Linked DNA regions of Homo sapiens: region 1 is linked to region 2. Evidence: fine-mapped expression QTL. A gene starts in region 2. The other region holds a variant in brackets. All regions are shown on one strand. Distances are between the middles of the regions.

Evidence for each region.
Region 1: its variant is fine-mapped to the expression of MMUT in whole blood (INTERVAL, PIP above 0.99).

What each region holds. Positions count from the first base shown.
Region 1 is chr6:49,369,694-49,380,051 of GRCh38, forward strand. No RefSeq gene overlaps it. Among named protein-coding and RNA genes, the nearest start is that of MMUT, 88 kb to the right of the region's middle. The variant A/G (reference allele first, on the strand shown) is at 4,824.
Region 2 is chr6:49,458,316-49,468,547 of GRCh38, forward strand. MMUT (methylmalonyl-CoA mutase) reads right to left here and starts at 4,938. Exons shown (of 13, transcript NM_000255.4): 1 at 4,788-4,938; 2 at 767-1,190. The coding sequence starts at 1,151. It overlaps CENPQ (centromere protein Q), which reads left to right and starts at 5,055. Exons shown (of 9, transcript NM_018132.4): 1 at 5,055-5,138. RefSeq lists enhancers at 4,121-5,021, 4,608-4,677, 5,022-5,921.

The sequences.
Region 1 (10,358 bases), 89 kb before region 2:
GGTCTGGCTCTGTTGCCCAGGCTGGAGTGCAGTGGCACAATCTCAGCTCACTGCAACTTCCACCTCCTGGGCTCAAGCGATCCTACCTCAGCCTCCCAAGTAGCTGGGATTACAGGTGCGTGCCACCACAGCTGGCTAATTTTTGTATTTTAGTAGAGATGGGGCTTCACCATGTTGGCCAGGCTGGTCTTGAACTCCTGGCCTTAAGTGATCTGCCTGCATTGACCTCCAAAGGTGATGGGATTACAGGCATGAGCCACCATACCCAGCCTGCTTTGGTAACTCTAAAAGGAAAAAACAGTACAATTTAAGCAGAAGCCTCAGTTGATTCCACAGGGAGCTCTTTATTTGGGGGCTTTCAAAGTGAAATTACATTAAGGTGAGGGGTGGGGCTTTACCTCTACATTTACTAGTAATTGAATGTGGTCTGCCCCTGGACAGGGAAGCCATCCTTGAGTGAGTCAGTTCTTATCATTCAGGGTAATTCTAAGAGAAGGAAACAGCCATGATTTATCAGTGGTGGCCAACATGACCAGTAGTTGGGGGAATGAGGCCCCAAACCTGAAGGAAAATCTGGAAAGAGTGCCTTGGAGACCCCTCTAGTCAGTTGTAGACCTCTGATAAACATTTGTATGGGATATAGATCTCATCACACTCTCTATACCCTTACTATATACCCCTCATCCCTTGTAAAGTTTACAATATTTGTTCTTTCCATATTCTTGACCATTTGAGCAATATATTAGCCTCTGTTCTTAAATCTGTAGATTTGTATCTCAGGCCTTCTGCCCACTTGAAGTAAATGACCAAAGGCACAATCTAAAGCGCTATTTAAAGGATTTCCTCACTACTTCCTGGATCAACTCTGCTAATATACAATACAGTTACAGATAAAAACTAGTCCTACTTCAAAGATACGAGTGGAGGGAGAAGCAATGAAGCAGTAGAAAGTAATACCATGACAGTTTGAGTCATCTGCTTTTATTTTTCTACCTTCTGGATTTGCTCAGATCTAATCACATATGCACCATTTCCACTTTACACTGGAATACTGCTGTGCATGTTGAGCTCCATAGGTCTGTCAAACAGATAACCACCATTTTAATATGGACATGATCACCTGACTTTTTAGCCTGCCAGAAGCTGCTTTTTAGTTGGTTGGAGGGGATAGGAGAGAGGTTAGGAGATTCTCCAAACTTGCAGAAGATGATGATAATGATGATCCATATCAAACAATATGAGTGGTAAAAGGAGAGATTTGTCAAGTGAAACAATGTGTCAGATTGAAAGCATGGGTATAAAGTTGTTTTGAATGCAGTCCTCATGAATCTTTCACAGAAGACCAGTTCCCACTGAGAAGTCCATTCTTTCAAAAGGCTGCATAGAAAGTGGAGAGGGAAAATGGAGCAGTTGCATAGGGAGTCAGAACCACTGTGGTTATCCACAGGGAAGAGAAAGAAAGAAACAAAAAAAATTGTTTTAATCTTTTCCTATCCAGTAACATTTATTAATAGCTATGTGCTGGCCCAGTGCTGGGTGCCGTACACATTCTATCTCATCTAATGCACACAACAAACCAGTTTTTATTAGTTGACCAGAAGTCATCCACAAATGGCTGAGATGAATTGGCAACACAGACCCACCCACTGACTTTGAAGTTAACACTGCCCCTACAGGTGACTCTCCCATCCAATTTTACCAATTTTATGATTTTATCCACAGGTAAAATTTTTTTAATCTTGTTATTATCCAGTTATCTAGGCAAATCTAGAAAGAAGCCTGGGGAGCTCATTAAAGTAGATATGCTGAGATGGAGAAAATTAAATTTTATCTCTTACTTCCTCTGGCTAAGAAAATTTTTAAGGCTCCTCAACAGGGAAAGAATTGGGGTGCAAAGCAGGAAAATGTATTCATTGAGATCAGTAACTTGTCCAGCTGTTCCTCATACTTATGGCTTTCAAATATGTCAATGATGTAGTTTGGACTAGGTTTGGGAACAATAGAGAGGGAATGTTCTAGGCTGGGAAAACATTCATGCATTGAAAGTAATTTTTTTCAAATAATCTACAAAACAGTCCTACTTTTCAATGTTTTGAATGAATTGAATTCAATCAATTCATAAGACAGAACACCGTCATTTGAAACATTATATTATGTTTCTACAAAACAAAAAGGAATAGAATTTTTAAAAACTCATCAGTTTCATGGAATTTTACTGGAAAGGTAATTAATCCATTTTCTTAGTTAATATGCTGGATCTGTACAAAGCATTATACAGAGTAAGTATTATTAAAGTGTTTGTTTCTTTTATTTCATTTTATTTTTGAGACCGAGTCTTGCTCTGTCGCCCAGGCCAGAGTGCAGTGGTGCAATCTCTGCTCACTGCAACCTCGGCCTCCTGGGTTCAAGCAATTCTCCTGCCTCAGGCTCCCAAGTAGCTAGGATTACAGGGGCACACCACCCTGCCCAGCTAATTTTTGTATTCTTTTAGTAGAGACAGGGTTTCACCATGTTGGCCAGGCTGGTCTCTAACTCCTGACCTAGTGATCCGCCCTCCTTGGCCTCCCAAAGTGCTGGGATTACAGGTGTGAGCTACCGCACCTGGCCATTTGTTTCATTATTGAACATGCAATTTAATTGAAGCATAATAGATCCCTTTAAATATGTATTATTTTTCCTCTATTATGTTGATTGACTGCTCTAGGAGTAAGAAAAAATTTACCACATTCTAAGATGTCAGCAAGTGAAATTCCAACCTCGCAATTCTTAACAAGGAATTTTCATATTTGTGGGTGTAGCAGCCTGATTCAGAGACAAAGCCCACCTTCTGTATATGAGATGTTGGATGGACAGCCAATTGTAATGATTTAAGGACAATGAACAATTGGGACCAGTTATCTTCTTCTTGAGACTCTTTACTTCTGTGAGTTCCAGCTGATGGACTCCAGCCCAGGTCTATATTGCATTTGGCTGTGGTGGTATTTGGATTCGAATTTGAATGTCTCCATACTAGGCAAGCCCTCTCTACTTTGGCACAATACCTACCACTTTTTATTTTTTGTATATCCTGATCCAAACAATGATACTACCTACTGAATTATAAAAGCAGTCAATTTTGTACAGAAGATGCTTCCGATTTCAGAGCCCTCTGTTAAAAGTTTAAAGATAATTATATTTAGTTTGTCAAGTGTGCAGAAAATGTACAAGCTATCCTTGTACATTTTAGCTAATAAAAAGTCTTCTTGTAAAGGAATAGAATTTGGTTATAATAGCTGTCAAATTTTTAAAATTTGTACTTTGAAGCTGTAATTCTAATTCCAGAAACTTTTTTCTAAAAAATTACTCATACAGATCCAAAAACTTTTGTGTGCAAGAATATGTTTGGCTGCATCACCCAAAATAAAAAAACCTTGTAAACAATCTAGATGTGCATTTATACAACAGTGGTTATAGAAATCATGATATAGTCAGTATATATGTAACAATATCTCACACATCACATATATACTATATATGAATTCATGTATCATACGTATTAACATTTATGAATTTATATATTCACATATCATATGTATATGAATGACATGTGTACATAAAATAGATGAATAATGACTATACATACTGGCAGGGAAAGTGTTCAAGTCATACTGTTAAGTAAAAAAGCAAGTTGCAAATTGCTGCATATAGTATGAAACCATTTTAGAGAAAATAAAGTGTGTGTGCACATGTATGAAATTTATGTCTTAATGCATAACAATGCAATAATAAGTATTTTTAGGAAATTGAGATAACGATTTTCCACTCACAATTATAAAATAATGTATATAATTATGCATTTTATTATATATTTTTAACATGTATAATTCTAAGCTGCTTGAATTATAATGAGAAAAATTTGTTAGATCACTTATAATACAGTCAAAGAAGGGGAAAAGTTCTCCATTAAAATAAAAACAATCCTTGAGAAAATACAATATAATTCATTAATAAGCAAGTATTTTAACATGCTTCTTAGGCCCTACTCTTTGTGCCCTTGGCCTAAAACACTCTCCATAAATTATTATGAATGCCTGTTTCCCCAAATAGTTATTATCTGCTAATTCTTCAGCTCTCTCTCAGATACTATATTCTTATGAAAGTCTTCCCTAACCAACCCAGTCATATGTTCTCACAGAAATCATATTGTTCCATAGCACATGTGATGGTTAATACTGAGTGTCAAATTGATGAGACTGAAGGATGCAAACTATTAATCCTGGGTGTGTCTGTGAGGGTGCTGCCAAAGGAGATTAACATTTGAGTCAGTGGGCTGGGGAAGGCAGACCTACACTTAATCTGGATGGGCACCATCTAATCAACTGCCAGCGATTATAAAGCAGGCAGAAAATGTGAAAGCCTCCCAGCCTACATCTTTTTCCCATGCTGGATGCTTCCTACCCTTGAACATCAGACTCCAAGTTCTTCAGTTTTGGAACTTGGACTGGCTCTCCTTGCTCCTCAGCCTGCAGCAGGCCTATTGTGGGAACTTGTGATCGTGTGAGTTAATACTTAATAAACTCATTAAATACCTAAGAAACTCTTTTATTCCATTAATTCTGTCCTTCTGGAGAACTCTGACTAATACAGTACACATGATGGTTTATAATTATATACTTATATATTCATTTAGGAAATTATTTATTTTATATACAATTCCTAGACTAAGCTATGAGCTCCATGAGGTCAGATATCCTATCTGTTTTTCTCACTGTTAAATTACAGACACCTGAAACAGTGTCAGGTCATGATAGATACTCAAAATATATTTATTGAATGAAGAAATC[A/G]TGAGTGAGTTTATTATTTAGTTGCATTTTTGAAAGTTCAGGATAAGTCTGTTTTTTTTTAAAAGTCACATACAATGGATAAGGGAAAAATAGGCCTTGAAAAAAAGGATGGAGAGGAAGCCTAACAATTTCAACTAGTTTACAATCTCACAGGCCTTGACAAGTTAACTCTTACAGCTAATTAAAATTACACCTGTGTATAGAGAGTAGGCATTCATTCATTTATTCATTCATTCAGTTTGTTCATTAATATTAATCTGCTAAGCTTTCATTCCCTTTATAAAGAGAAAGTCTTAGATTCAATGTGATGTTTCCTCTTTAATTCATAATCAGCTACCTAAGAATATTTTAAAAGGCCTCTTTTTTCAACTTTTAAAACCAAGCATTTCAGTTCTTATGAGCTTCATTCAAATTCTTGCCTTATTTTTTTCCCGCTAATAGCTCTACTCAATCCAAAGGTATTTTACTCAGTATATCTCAGATTTTATTTTCCCAGTTTCCTTCTTTTCATGCTGTTTATTTGAAGATTTTTTTAAAATTTTCAAACTGACTTTTTATTGCTATTTTTCTGGCCTCAGTTCTCTATTTGATGTTTTTAAAGAGTTGTGTCACTAGATAGTAGTTAAATACTTACCAATTTTTCTACTTAATCTCAGAAAACCTGCTGCCATTTTATAATAAATACAATACCATGCCACTCATGGAAGGTCAATGCATGAGTGTCGGGTAATGTCACTTGACTTCTTTGAGACAGGATCCCCCACTTACTCACACCACCCTCCCATTAAAAACTAACCGTACATCTGGAATGTTGGCCAGCTTTCCTTAATAGAGAGGATGTGGCCTAAGGGCCTTTATTCACAAAATTAGTTTGTGCCTGATGCTCTGAATTATGCTGTTTTAATAATTTGCTAGAAACATGATCAATAAGAAGTATTCATTTTCTGTTACCCTGTAGGTAAATTCTTTGCCAGTATTAATATTTTCTTTGACAGATTGCTGAACTCATAATGATGGTATTGCATACTTGCAAAGCTGTTTATGATCTGCAAAATAATTTCACATTTCACTGTGTCATAGCTTTTCACCTCTGATTCTAGTTAGATAATTCAATTATGTAAAATAGTCACTTGATGAGGGACTCCTGTTAAGCATTATACCAACACTTCAGACACTGTCAAAAGAAATATATGTAGTCTCTTCATTTGCAAATCATTGAAAGCTTGAAAGTGGTGTATTAGAAACAAAGACTGTTATAAAATTGTAGGATACCACAACTTCATGCAATTTAAAAAAACAGTGAGTTCCAACCATGATCAAAAAGGATGGATTTATATTTGTCTGGAAATTAAGAAAAATGGCTAAAGAAATGTCAATCTGACTGCCTTGCTTGTTGGCTGTAGCCCTTGCTATCTTGAATTATATTTGCGATTACTAAATATAATTCTTGCCTAATATCCTACTTCCACTTGAATATACTCTCTTGCTTGGACAATGATGTCAATTCTTAATATCTCTTTAATATTTCAATCCCAGCTTTCTCATTTGTCTCTTAATGCCCAGTGATGCATGATATGGCACAAGGTTGCAATACTGGTAATATTTTTTTCAGAAAATCATCCTTCCTTTATCATCTGTTGACACTTTTGTTGAGCCATTTAAATGTGCCCAGCATTCTGCTTGACTGCTAAGGTTATACAGTTGACACCCTTAAGGAGTTTACAGTAATTCAGTTTGCAATCTATACATAATTAATTAGACATTTTTCATCAATTAAAAACATACAAGAATTTTAAAAATATATAATATTCTTGCAGTCTTCATTGCATGAAAGAAACAAGTACTATCCCTTAAATTAGATATGCGTAACCTATGAAGATACCAGATTAGCCAGTTTACTAGGTGTGCAATAAATAAAATCCCAAAGTATCTATTCTTGATTGTGGAAAAAAGATCTGAAGATATAGAAAAGTAAAGTTTCTATGACAGAACACATCATAGACCAGCATTGGAAACACACTAAAAATAATATTAATCAATTGTCAGTCATAAGCTTGTCAGAAGCCTGACATAATTGTTCTTCCTCAGAGAGAAAAATGTGCAGAGACTTAGAGAAAAAAAATTCATTAGAATAATCTGTTCACCTTGATTGAAAGTTGATAAATGTATTTGGTAATTTCAAACAGATTGTGAATTTTAAAAATCTATGCTAGAACTCATTTTTATAAATTTGTAAAATTAGGAAGGAATTGAGGAGAAAACTCTTATCAAAAAATTGCAAATTGTGGCTTTATCCAGCCTGTCAATGTTAGACTGGATAAATTAAATGTAGTACATATACACTATGGAATACTATGCAGCCATAAAAAGGAACAAGATCATGCCCTTTGCAGGGACATGGATGGAGCTGGAACCCATTTTCCTCAGCAAACTAACTCAGGAACAGAAAACCAAATACCACATCTTCTCACTTATAAGTGGGAGATGAATAATGAGAACACATGGATACATTGAGGGGAGCAACACGCACTGGGGCCTGTGGAAGGGTGGAGCATTAAGAAGAATAGCTAATGGATGCTGGGCTTTATACCTAGGTGATGAGATGATCTGTGCAGCTAATCACAATGGCACATGTTTACCTATGTAACAAACCTGCACATCCTGCACATGTGCCCCTGAAATTAAAAGTTGGAAATCAAAAAAGGCCAATTTTTAAGATTCTAGGACAAAAAGAGGTTACTTATGTATTTAGATATTACAGATGCAATATTCTTCCTTGGGTTTTGTATATAGAAGCAATTTTTCTCCAGCAAAATTATACAAATGACCATTCTTCATAACTGAAAACAGTGAAAGTATCTTGTGGGCATCAGACCTTCCAGTGCAGAGGATGATTAAAGTTGAGATAATCAGTTAAGAAACATGCCATTTCCAGCTCCTTCTTCTTTCATTGAGGAGAGAAGGAGTGGGAGGAAGACTCCGGATTGATGAACAATTAATTTTAGTCTGTTAATTTTCTACAAGGAAAATGACTAAGATTCACTTTATGGAAATTTAAAATGCATGCAATTTGGACATCATACTGTAAAACATCACCAAGGAATATAGCTAAAGATTAGAAATGTTGCTGAAATGGAGCAGCCCTGAAATGATTTGGGAGAAGCTATTTTATTAAACTCTTTTCTAGCTTAATGAATTTCAGTCTCAGTACTTTCTAGTCCATGCTTTTTCAAACTGCTGTACATGGAGCATTCGTTTCTGAGTGATTTTAAAATGTATTGTGCAAGTAAAAAGAATTCTAGGAGAAATATATTGGAAACCTTTGGGTTATACAAAGTTAAATTCATTTCTTCAGGACCTTGTGACGTCTCTAATGTACTACATGTGTTCTGCCTTCTGAGAAAGAGATATAATGAACAATGTCTTTCAGACACATTTGACTGTAGTAAACTTTTCTTAAGATGACTGCTCCCAAATGCATGCATGAGAACAATTACTTTTAGTGAATGATATGAAACAACTGACTATATTTTTGCACTTTCACTCTTACTGTCACATTATTCCTAAAGGACAGATAGTTGTGCAAGAAGAATATTGAATCCAAACAGGTTGTTAGAAATCACGTAGTAGTGGCCAGTAGCAGTGGCTCACACCTGTAATCCCACCACTTTGGGAGGCCAAGGTGGGTGGATCACCTGAGGTCAGGAGTTTGAGACCAGCCTGGCCAACATAGTGAAACCCCATCTCTACTAAAAATACAAAAATTAGCCGGGCATGGTGGCGTGTGCCTGTAATCCCAGCTACTTGGGAGGCTGAGGCAGGAGAATCACTTGAACCTAGGAGGCGTAGGTTGCAGTGGGCCAAGATCACGCCACTGCACTCCAGCCTGGGTGACAGAGTAAGATGGCATCTCAAAAGAAAAAAAGGAGAAGAAGAAAAAAGAAATCATGTAGAAGTGAAAGTCAACACAGCTGCAAAGTTTAGAAAGATGTCTTCCAATATGAAAGAAAATATCTTCTTTAAGAAAAAATAATTTCAATACTAAACAAGTACTTACAAAAAATAGAGGAGAATAAAATACTTCCAAACTAATTTTTTAAGCCAGAATATTCCTTATACCAAACACTGGAAAGAGCATTACAAGAAGAGAAAATGAATACTAATGTCTCATAATAAATATTAGCAGTAAACTCGAACAATGTTCAATCATGACCAGATAGGGTTACTTATAAGAAAGTAGAGTTGGTTTAGTATTTAAAAATCAACCACGCAAATTCCCATATTAACAGAATAAAGATTAAAATAGTATATATAAATAGATGTGAAAAATTTTTTATTAAATTTAAAATCCATTCATAATTTTTACAGAGAACTTTCAAACTAGGAACACAATAAGACTTCCTTAATCTGATTTTTTCTTTTAATTTTTTTCTTTTAATTGAGACAGTCTTGCTCTGTTGCCCAGGCTAGAGTGCAGTGGCGCAAGTTCAGCTCACCACAACCTCTGTCTTCTGGGTGCAAGCGATTCTCATGTCTCAGCCTCCCAAGTATGCTGGGATTGGAGGTGTGCTCCACCTCACCTGGCTAATTTTTGTATTTTTAGCACAGATGGGTTTTCACCATGTTGACCTGATTGGTCTCAAACTCTTGGCCTCAAGCCGTCCACTTGCCTTGGCCTCCCATCGTGCCAGGATTACAGGTGTGAGCCTCCATGCCTGGCCCTTAATCTGATTTTTTAGAAAAGTTTAGGTCAGGTGTGATACCAGGCACCTGTAGTCCTAGCTACTTGAGAAGCTGAGGCAGGAGAATCCCTTGAGAGGCTGAGACAATATAATCACTTGAGGCAAGGAGGTCAAGCATTGATCACACCACTGCACTCCAACCTGGGTGAAAAAGGGTGAACCTGTCTCTATTTTTTTAAAGAAAAAGTCTACAAATAACGTACAGCTAACATTAGACTCTCTGCAAAAATTTTGAAATACCTCTAGGATCAAAAATAAGACAAGGATGTCCACTTTCAACACTTTTCATTCAATGAATTGCTGGAGGTCTTAGCCAATTCAATAAAGCAAAAAATAACAATAATAAAAAACACATATAAAAGTTCAAAATCAAAATTCCTGAAGGATTTCTAGTAGAAATATTTAAATTAATTATTAAATTTATATGAAAAGTGGGGCTGGGTGTGGTGATTCATGCCTGTAATCCCAACACTTTGGGAGTCTGAGGCCAGCAGATCGCTTGATGCCAGGAGTTCGGGACCAGCCTGGCCAACAGACGGGAAAAAACCCGTCTCTACTAAAAATATAAAAATTAGCCAGGTGTGGAGGCGCGTGCCTATAATTCCAGCTGCTCAGGAAGCTGAGGCAGGAGAATCGCTTGAACCCGGGAGGTGAAGGTTGCAGCGAGCCAAGATCACACCACCGCACTCCAGCCTGGGTGACAGAGTGAGATGCTGTCTCAAAAAAAAAAAAAAAGTATATATATGTGAAAAGCATATGACACAAAATAGTCAAACAATTTCAAGGAAAAAAA
Region 2 (10,232 bases):
AATCTCAATCATCTCGTATCTATCTGAAGATATGGTACTTGATTGAAATATTTCTAAAATTCATGAAAAGATCTGGCTGTTCATATATGGCAAAAATAACTTAGCATTTGTATGCTTGCTTACTATTTTGTTCTTTTATCTAATATGGTCACAAAGGATTCCTGGCTATTCAAATATTCTGGAAAACAGAATTATGACCATCGTACAAAATTTTTAAATAACTAAAATAGTCTATACTAAATGTAAGTTCAACCTTCCATGGGCAATACAAACTTATAAATCTACAAGTTTAGTATTCAAACAGTACAATTTTATTACAGCTCAGAAAGAAGAAATAATAGTTAAGATAATTTTCAGTGAATGAATGCCAGGTTGCACTGAATATGTTTGTACCACGTTATCACATTTACACTTTCTTTGGGCATCATCTAAACTATCTTCCTCTCCAATCGCTATCCCAACAATGTTAATTGAACATTTTTCGAAGGCAAAGCTAATGTCTTCTTTTCTTCATGCAACTTTACCTCACCTAATTCCTTTTAAACAACGTGCATGTGTTGTTTTCTTTCAAAAATTTAGCACCTTATTCTAATTCACTTATCTTTTTGACCACAGAAGTTAAAAAAATCCACTTTTTTCAGAGTATAGTCTTTAACTACAAAATTATAGAGTGAATATCATCTTTACAGAGATTAACCCCCAAAAAATAAAAAACTAGGAGGCATATGACTTATCATAAATATTATGTCTTACATTAAAATCTCACCCTTAATGTTGTCCTTATAGAACTTATTGCTTTCTTCCACAGTACTAAAACCAGCATACTGGCGGATGGTCCAGGGCCTAAAGGTATACATGGTAGGATATGGTCCACGTGTGAATGGCTTCACTCCTGGAAGTTCTTCAGGTAAGTCCATAGTATCTCTCTTGGAATACAAGGGTTTTATAGAGATCCCTTCCGGGGTGTGCCATATTAGGTCTTCTGGGTTTTTGCCTTTCAGCTGCTTTTTAGCCAGGGCAGCCCATTCTGGGTGAAGGGGCTGTTGCTGGTGTAGAAGTCGTTGCTGTATGAGCCTGGAGCCTGATGATTCTTTTACCTGCCTCAGGTAATGAGGTGAAAGTAAAAAAAGCTGATTCTTAGCTCTTAACATGGTGGAGCATGGAAACACCCAATAGAAATAAGAACTGACCTAGAAAAAGAAACATAGAGTAAAAACATTTAGAAGAGGGGGTGGGAAATAGGAGCTACTCATAAGAAAGGAACAGAAAAGAAAGAGGATGTATTAGTCTGATTTCATTTCTTCCCCTTTTCTGCTTCCTGCACCTGATATTTTATAACTTTGGCCCCTCTTCTTCACAATTACTATCAGTCCTGTAGTTTCAGTCTTTTTCCTCAGTAGCCTCTTAGCTGGTCTTACTGACCAGTCTTACTCCTTTTCTACTCCATTCTATACGAATCCCTTCCATACAATGACATCAATGTAAATATGACTATGTCACACTCCTCATGGAATTTTTCAAAGACTCTGTATCATGTGGAAGATATACTACAGCCTCCTAATTAATTTTTTCATTCAAAGTGCTTTTATTAAATATCAGTTTATGACCGACATTATGTTGGGTAATAGAGAAAAAAGTGATGAATAAGACAAACAGGCATTCAAGGCCTTCATGAACTGGTCTCTGTTTCCCCCTCAGACCCATCTCTGTCTTTGTCCTCTTTATGCATTTTGTGCACTAGAAATACTGGATTACCTACAGTTGGCTGCACATATGTCAAAGTTTTCTGAATTTGCTCTTGCTCTTCCTTCTGCCTAAAATGTTCTTCTCTGGCTAATTCAGCTAAGGCATTATCTCCAATTTGCAGCGTTTCTATGTGCCAGTAACATAGAAGGCTATAAAGACATCACAGAGAGTAGCAATTTTAATCTTTACAATACCCCTAAGAGGTAGGTACTATTATTATCCTTATTTTACAGATTAGGAAACTGAGGCACAGAAGAGCCAGCATTGATTGGAACCTATGCAGCCTGTTTCAAAGTCCTTGCATTTAACTAATATGCACACAATTCATCCCAGAACCCATAAGGTGAGCTAAATGGCCTCTTCAATAATCTACTTCTGTGCTAGTTTATAAACTGCTCCAACATTAGAGCTGCATATTCCGGATAACTAGCATAGACTTTTATACTAGGTTGCTGGGTTCAGCGTCATCATTTTCCAGATGTAGAAACTGAGGCTCAGAGAAATAAAGTCGCTTGATCAAAATCCCACCTCACAAAGCCGTAAACTGTTTACCTGAATTACTAAAACTTGTCAGAGTCATACAGCGTAAACATATAGAGCCCATTGTTTAAAAAGATATTGAGATGCAAACATTAATATATTCACTATACTATGTGTTTTATACTGGATAAGGCAACAAGTAAAGGGAGTTTCAAATTTTATTTTCCATACCACTTCTTACCTATCAGTTTAGTAAAGCTTAAATGAAATCAATACTCAACACTTATTATGGGGTCGTTAAACAAGAGACATAAACCACTGGTGACAGTATTAACTATTTTAACTACTTTGGAAAGTAAATTGTCAATATACATGAAATGCTTCAGAAATGTTTATGCCATTCCACTGAGGAACATTACTCCTGGGAAAGCTTCTGTAGTAATATATAAAATAGATGTTTCCTATAGTTTTATTTGTAATAGAGAAAACTTAGGAAAATCGTAAGTATCTCATAACATATGAATAAGTGAATTACAGCATATACAAATGATAGAATTTCATGTAGTTATCAAAATATGTTTAGAAAGCTGGCAAAACTAATCTTTGATGTCAGAAGTCAGAAGAATGGTTACTTAATGGTTGCTAGAATACAACAGGAGCAAGAGAGGGGCTTTTGGGGGTAATGGTCTTGATCTGATTGCCACTTACATAGATATATTCTGTTTGTGGAAATTCATCAAATTATACAGTTATGTTTTATGCAGTTTCTGTAAATATATGTATAAGTAAAAAGTTAAAAATGTGTTATGCATAGTTTCCCAAAAAAAGAGAAACAAACTCAAAAAGTAGTAAGTAAAAGACTCAAGACACGTAATTGTAAGTGCAACAGGTTCAACTATGTAAAAAGTACATAGAACAAAGTCTAAATGGAAACATAACAAAAAAGGCTGGGCATGGTGGTTCACGCCTGGAATCCCAGCACTTCAGGAGGCCGAGGCAGGTGGATCACCTGAGGTCAGGGGTTCAAGACCAGCCTGGCCAACACGGTGAAACCCAGTCTCTACTAAAAATACAAAAATTAGCTGGGCATGGTGGCGCACACCAGTAATCCCAGGTACTCAGGAGGCTGAGGCATGAGAATCACTTCAACCCGGGAAGCAGAGGTTGCAGTGAGCAGAGATCGTGCCACTGCACTCCAACCTGGGCAACAGAGAGAGACCCCGTCTCAAAACAAAACAAAAAAACCTTCCATTTTTTTAATACTAGCACGATTTTTATTCTTTAAATCCATGGGGTCCTTGTCATCCATCTTTTTGCAAGCCATCCACTACATTTACTAGCTTAAAAGGTGGATGAAAAAAATAATGAAGCAACAACTAAACTGTTTCAATAGTAATCCTGTAAAAGGTAATTTGAAAACCACCTGAGACTAAACTGTTGGCAGGAAATATCACACTCATTTCACGTGGGCTTTCCTAAATCTGAACAACTAATAGGAAAGAGCCCCGTTTAAGTGACTTCCTGAAAATCACATGTGAATTGGTGGAGGCTGGAAACAGACACCATTTTTAGATAAAAACACAACTACTGCGGATGGCAATACGACCTCTGAATTTTCTCAGAAGACCATCAAGAGAGGCCTCAAGCATTCAAAGAAGCAACATGCAAAGCAAATATGTTACTGACAACTAAAATGAGTTAAAGAGCAATGATTAATCCCACCCCCACACCTCAAAAACAAATCAGTGAGAAAAAGATTTCTTGAACCAATAAGTTTCAAGCTTTGGCTGCTGACGTATGATTGCACATTAATACTTCAAGAAGGTACTTTGATGTTCAACTAGTTGGGTTTGGAGATGGAAACATAGGGCATGAAAATTATATTTGATATTAGCATAAGTACATCATTAAACACAAAATTATATTGGCAGAAAATCATCAAGTGGTTTAAAACTTTACACACATACGTTATCCAGGGCTTCGAGCTTCCCTAAGACCACCTTCTTTCTAGATAAAACTGAGAACGAGTTAGTAATGTAAGCTTTTATGTCAATTTAGACCTGTCTTTTCTATTCTACCTCTCACTCTTAACACTGTTTACACTCTTAATCCTGTTTACACACAGAAAATCACTTTTATTCCCGAAAACTCTTAGAAAAACCCTGACAATAACATAACCCACAACCTAGAAGGGAGGCAGCCATGAAGCAGGCGCATCCCTTTGGAACCATACAAAAAGTGACCTCTGCCAACGGGAACAGTTCAGGGTGCTTAAGTGGCCAAAGAAGATACCGACATGGCCCCTAAAGTATTAAAAGCACCTTCTTTCCAGAAGTACCTCCGAATTGCCAGGGACTTCGCCCAAAACTAGAGGTTGGTCGAAGTGAAAATCTAAACCTAAGGAGAAGGCAGAGAGTGGGATCCCGTCACAGTAGGAAGGTAAAGAAGACAGAAGTAAAGGACAGAGCGGGAGAGAAAGGACAAAAGTTCAAAATACAGGGGTAGAGGAGGGACAGGAGCCAGAAGAATGGAGCGATCTGAAAGGTGTACGTCCTACTCACTGGTAGGCCTGTTTTGGACTCCGCTGTGGGAGAGGGCGGCTGCACTTCTGCGTCCCCCGCCTCACCTGTCAGACATCCACACAGCCAGGCCTCCCCGCCCTCACCAAGCCCACACAAACCGCGCCACCGCCAGCGTCAGCCGGACGACTCTGGGGGCGTAGGCCGACACCGCCCTCCCTCCAGCCAATCTAATAGCGCTCTCATGGGCGCATTCCTGATGACGTTTAGGGGTAGGGTTAGATGCCCGTTTCCGCTTTCTTCCCACCCACTTCCGGGTCTCCTCTGTTTACGAATGTTTGGGCGCGAATTACTCTAAGCGCGGCTCTCAGAAGGGTGCAAGAAGAATCAGTGGTGAGTCGTGATATCCTTAACCGGCTGGGTGGATCTAAAGTTCAGGGATGAGTTTTAAAGCCAACGCGTTTGTGGCAGACTCCGCAGTTTGCATTTGAGGATAGCGAGGGGGGATTGCTTACGGGGAAATGCCCGATGTCCTAAAAGATCTGCCCTTAGGATCCTGAGATTGAGATGTTTGATTAGGGGGGAGGGAGCAAAGCCATGAATACTTCCTATTTCTCCCGAATCATCCTCATGGCTCATCCTCATTGCTAAATTTCTCCCGCGGGCACTAGTGAAGTCAAGTGCAGCCTTGGACATTAGTGTCTGTGTTTCTCCAGGAGTCCTACTCACTCTTGTGCCCACATAGAGGTCTAAATTGAGGTAATTGAGTCCCATGAGTATCAACAAGCTGGTAAGAAAAACAAGACAACCTAGAATGCCTCCCTCTCTCCTAAAGCATATAGTCTGGCGGCAAACTACTGTACCAGCCTTATTTCTTTTCACTTCTCCTATACACATTAAAAGCCTCGCTGGATTATCCTGTCCCTGAACACGCCAGGTTTTTTGTGTTTTTTCCGAGCTTTCCTGCCGTCCGAGTTTTACTGTTTTCCCTTGGATGCTTCATTTTTCTACTTTTTGGCTAAATATTTCAAAATGTTATTAGAATAATACTTTTTCTATGAATAATGTACAAACATACTTCCGAGATATTGCGGGGTCGGTTCCAGACCAATAAAGCCTGTCACACGATTTTTTTGGTTTCCCAGTGCATATAACAGTTGTATTTACACTGTATTGTAACCTATTAAGTGTGCAATAGCATTATGTGTAAAAAAAAATTACATGCTGTAATTTTAAAATATTTTATTGCTAAAAAATGCTACTAATCATCTCAGCCTTCAGCAAGTCCTAATCTTTTTGCTGGTGGAGGGTCTTGCTTGATGTTGATGGCTGTTGACCAATCAGGGTGATGGTTGCTGAAGATTGGAGTTGCTGTGGCAGTTTCTTAAAATAACAAAATAATGAATTTTGTACAGCAGTTGACTCTTCCATTCACTAAAGATTTCTCTGTAGCATGTGATGCTGTTTGAAAGCATTTTACCCACTGTAGAACTTCTTTCAAAATTAGAGTAAATCCTCTTAACCCCTACCATTGCTTTAGCAACTAAGGTTTTGTGATATTCTGAATTCTTTGTTGATATTTCAAGAATATTCACAGCATCTTCACCAGGGGTAGATTCCATCTCAAGAACTTCGCTCATTCATAAGAAGCAACTTCTTTTCCACTAGTTTTATCATGAGATTGCAGCAATTCAGGTACATCTTCAGGCTCCACTATTTCTCTTGCTATTGCCACCAGATCTTTCATCACTTCCTCCACTGAAGTCTTGAACAAAGTCATGACCTTTACAAAGTCATCCATGAGGGTTGGAATCAACTTTTTCCAGACTCCTGTTAATGTTGATATTTTGACCTCCTCCCGTGAATCATGAATGTTCTTACTAGCATTTGGGATGGTGAATCATTTCCAGAAGTTTTCAATTTATTTTGCCCAGATCCATCAGAGGAATCACTGTCTAGGGCAGCTATAGCTTTACAAAATGTATTTCTTAAATAATATAACTTGAAAGTCAAAATTATTCTTTGATTCATGGGCTGCAGAATGGATGTTGTGTTAGCAGACATGAAAACAGCATTAATCTCCTTGTACATCTCTATCAGAGCTCTTGGGTGACCAAGTACGTGGTCATTGAGCAGTATTATTTTGAAAGGAATCTTTTTGTGAGCTGTAGGTCTCAAAGATGGGCTTAAAATACTCAGTAAACCGTGCTGTAAACAGATGTGCTGTCACTCATGCTTTGTTCTTCCATTTCCAGAGCACAGACAGAGTAGATTTAAAAGAATAAGAGCCCTAGGATATTTCAGAATGGTCAATGAGCATTGGCTTCAAGTCACCACCCATATTAGCCCCTACAAGAGAGTCAGCCTGTCTTTTGAAGCTTTGAAGCCAGGCAATGACTTCTTTCTAGATATGAAAGTCCTAGATAGCATCTTCCAATAGAAGGCTGTTTTGTCTTCATTGAAAATCTGTTGTTTAGTGTAGCCCCTTCATCAATTATCTTACCTAGAACTGGATAACTTGCTGCAGCTTCTGCATCAGCACTTGCTGCTTCACTTTGTACTTTCATGTTATGCAGATAGCTTACTTCCTTAAACCTCAGGAACCAAGCTCTGCTAGCTTCAGGCTCTTTTGCTACAGCTTTCTCACCTCTCTCAGCTTTCATAGAATTGAAGTGAGTTAAGACCTTGCCATGAATTCGTCTTTGGTTTAAGGGCGTGTTGTGGCTAGTTTGATCTTCAATCCCGGACCACTCAAACTTTCTCCCTATCAGTAATAAGGCTGTTTTTGCTTTCTTATCATTCATGTCTTCACTGGAATAGCACTTTAAATTTCCTTCAAGAACTTTTCCTTTGCATTCACAGCTTGGCTAACTGGTGTAGTTTCCAGCCTATCTTGGCTTTTGACATGCCTACCTCACCTTGCTTAAACATTTCTAGCTTTTAATTTAAAGTGAGAGAGGTGTGATTTTTGCTTTCACTTGAACACTTAGAGGCCATTGTAGGGTTATTAAATGGCCTAATTTCAATATCATTGTGTCTCAGGGAATAGGGAGGCCTAAGGAGAGGGAGAGAGGCAGGGAACAGCCAGTTGGTGGAGCAGTCAAAACACAACGCAACATTTACCTATTAAGTTCTCTGTCTGATATTGGCATGGTTCATGGTGCCCTAAAACAATTACAGAGTAACATCAATCACCATAACAGATATAATAATGAAAAGGTTTGAAATATTGTGAGAGTTATCAAAATATGACACAGAAATGTGAAGAGTGAGCACAATCTGTTGGAAAAATGGCATCAATATAGTTGTTCAGTGCAGGCTTGCCACAAACCTTTAGTTTGTAAGACAACAACAACAAAATACAGTGTCTGCGAGGCTCAATAAAGTGAAACACAATAAAAAGAGTTATGCCTGTACATTCTTACCCATAGCACAAACCAGTTTAAGACAGTCATTCGCTCACTTGCCTCTTTATAACATTTATAAATACACATAGTAATTATTTTCATATCTGTCTCTACCTGTGCACTATCACTAAGCTGTGGTTTCCCTTGGATCTAAGAATGGGACAAAATACCTATTCATTTTTATATGCACTGTGAGTAGCCCAGAAGTGATAGAAACAATGTCTTTTGTTTATTGGATTCTTACTATGTCTCAAATACCGTTCTAGGTGGTTTATATATTCTTTGTTACATCATTTTTGCTTTACAAAAGCCTTTAATGTTAGTACTTTTATTAATCGTTTTACTAATGGGGAAAATGAGTTAATTTACTGGCCCAAAGATATACAGTTAATTAAGTGGCAGGGCTAGATTTGGAGCTTGAACAATTTACCCTCGTTGCAGGACTGCTCTTAACCATTATGGTAGTGTTCTCAACCTGGGTTGATTTTGACCCAGGAGACATTTGGCAATGTCTGGAAACAATTTTGATTGGCTCTACTCAGGGGTTGGAAGTATTCTAGCATCTGACGGTCTACGTAGACCCAAGCATGCTGCTAAACATCCTACAATACACACCACAGTCTCCACAACAAAGAATGATCCATCTAAAATGTTAATAGTGCTGAGGTTGAGAAACTTTGTGCTATAGTCTAGTGCCTCAAGTAGGTTTCATTGTTAACAGTACTTCTCAAACTCTGTTAGACCAGTTTTGCTTTTTATTTCTAATCAGTCATAACTGATACTTTTGTAAAATGCAATTAAAAATCAATTATTAGTCAAACTCCCTTGTGGTATAATACCAGGAGTGAACTCTGATGTAAACAATGGATTTTGGGTAATATGATGTGTCAACAATTACAGCAAATGTACCAGTTTGGTGTGTGATGTTAATACTAGAGGTTGCAGGGAATGGGGAAGGGCAGGGATTATATAAGAAGTTTCTGTATGTTTTGCTCAATTTTCTGTAAACCTAAAACTGTTCTGAAAAAAGTCTTTTTTAAAAAAATACTAATTACTAGAAAATGATATGGCAAAGACAAGGCTAATTATTTTATGATAAGGTTCAATGTGCATAAAATTACTCTATCAAATTGCTACAAAAGTTTCTAAATGATTACCTTCAATTTCCACACTTGATTATGGCAAACAGTTTGAATGAGATTTGGAGTAGCGCTAAATTACATGTTATTTTAATAAAGAATATCAAGAAGAAAATGATTAATGGACCCAAGCTATAAATAAGTACCAAATGAGACAGAGCAAAAGAGCCACAGACTTAGAGAGAAATGAAGTAGAATAGTTAGGAAGATTTTGAAAAGAAGGTGGCTCATGATCTGAGAGGGTGGGCAGAGACAGAAGAGAGCTGCTCAGGTAGAAGGTACAGTGTATGTTTGGGAGGCAGAATTACTCAAAGTGTGTTCAGGAAATCATCAAATCTAGCTAGAGAGGGAGATTTGATTAAGGAGTAGTAGGAGAGAAGTATGAAAAGGTAGGCAGAGTTAGGTTGGTAAGGACTAAAAATGGCATGGTAAAGAGTTTGAATGTTACACAGAACGTATTGGGGTAAATTTTTTACTCAATTAATTTGTTCCAAAATTTGGGATTGGGAGGGACTAGGCAGGGCTTGCTCATGTCTTGTCCACACAGTGTGGGCTGCAGCATATTGACTTAGGTACATGTACCAGACTGGCCAGTTGGTGCTGGCTCTTGGCTGGGAGCTCAGCTAAGACTTTCCTGGGGTTTCAGTTCCTCTCGGTGTTGGCCTTCCTCCTATGGTGGTGGCTGGGTTATAAGAGCAAGTGTTGGCCGGGCTCAGTGGCTCACGCCTGTAATCTCAGCGCTTTGGGAGACCGAGGCAGGAGGATCACTTGAGGTCAGGAGTTCGAGACCGGCCTGAACAACATGGTGAAACCCCGTCTCTACTAAAAATACAGAAAATTAGCTGGGCGTGGTGGGGGGTGCCTGTAGTCCCAGCTACTTGGAAGGCTGAGGCAGGAGAATCGCTTAAACCTGGGAGGCAGAGGTTGCAGCAGTGAGCCGA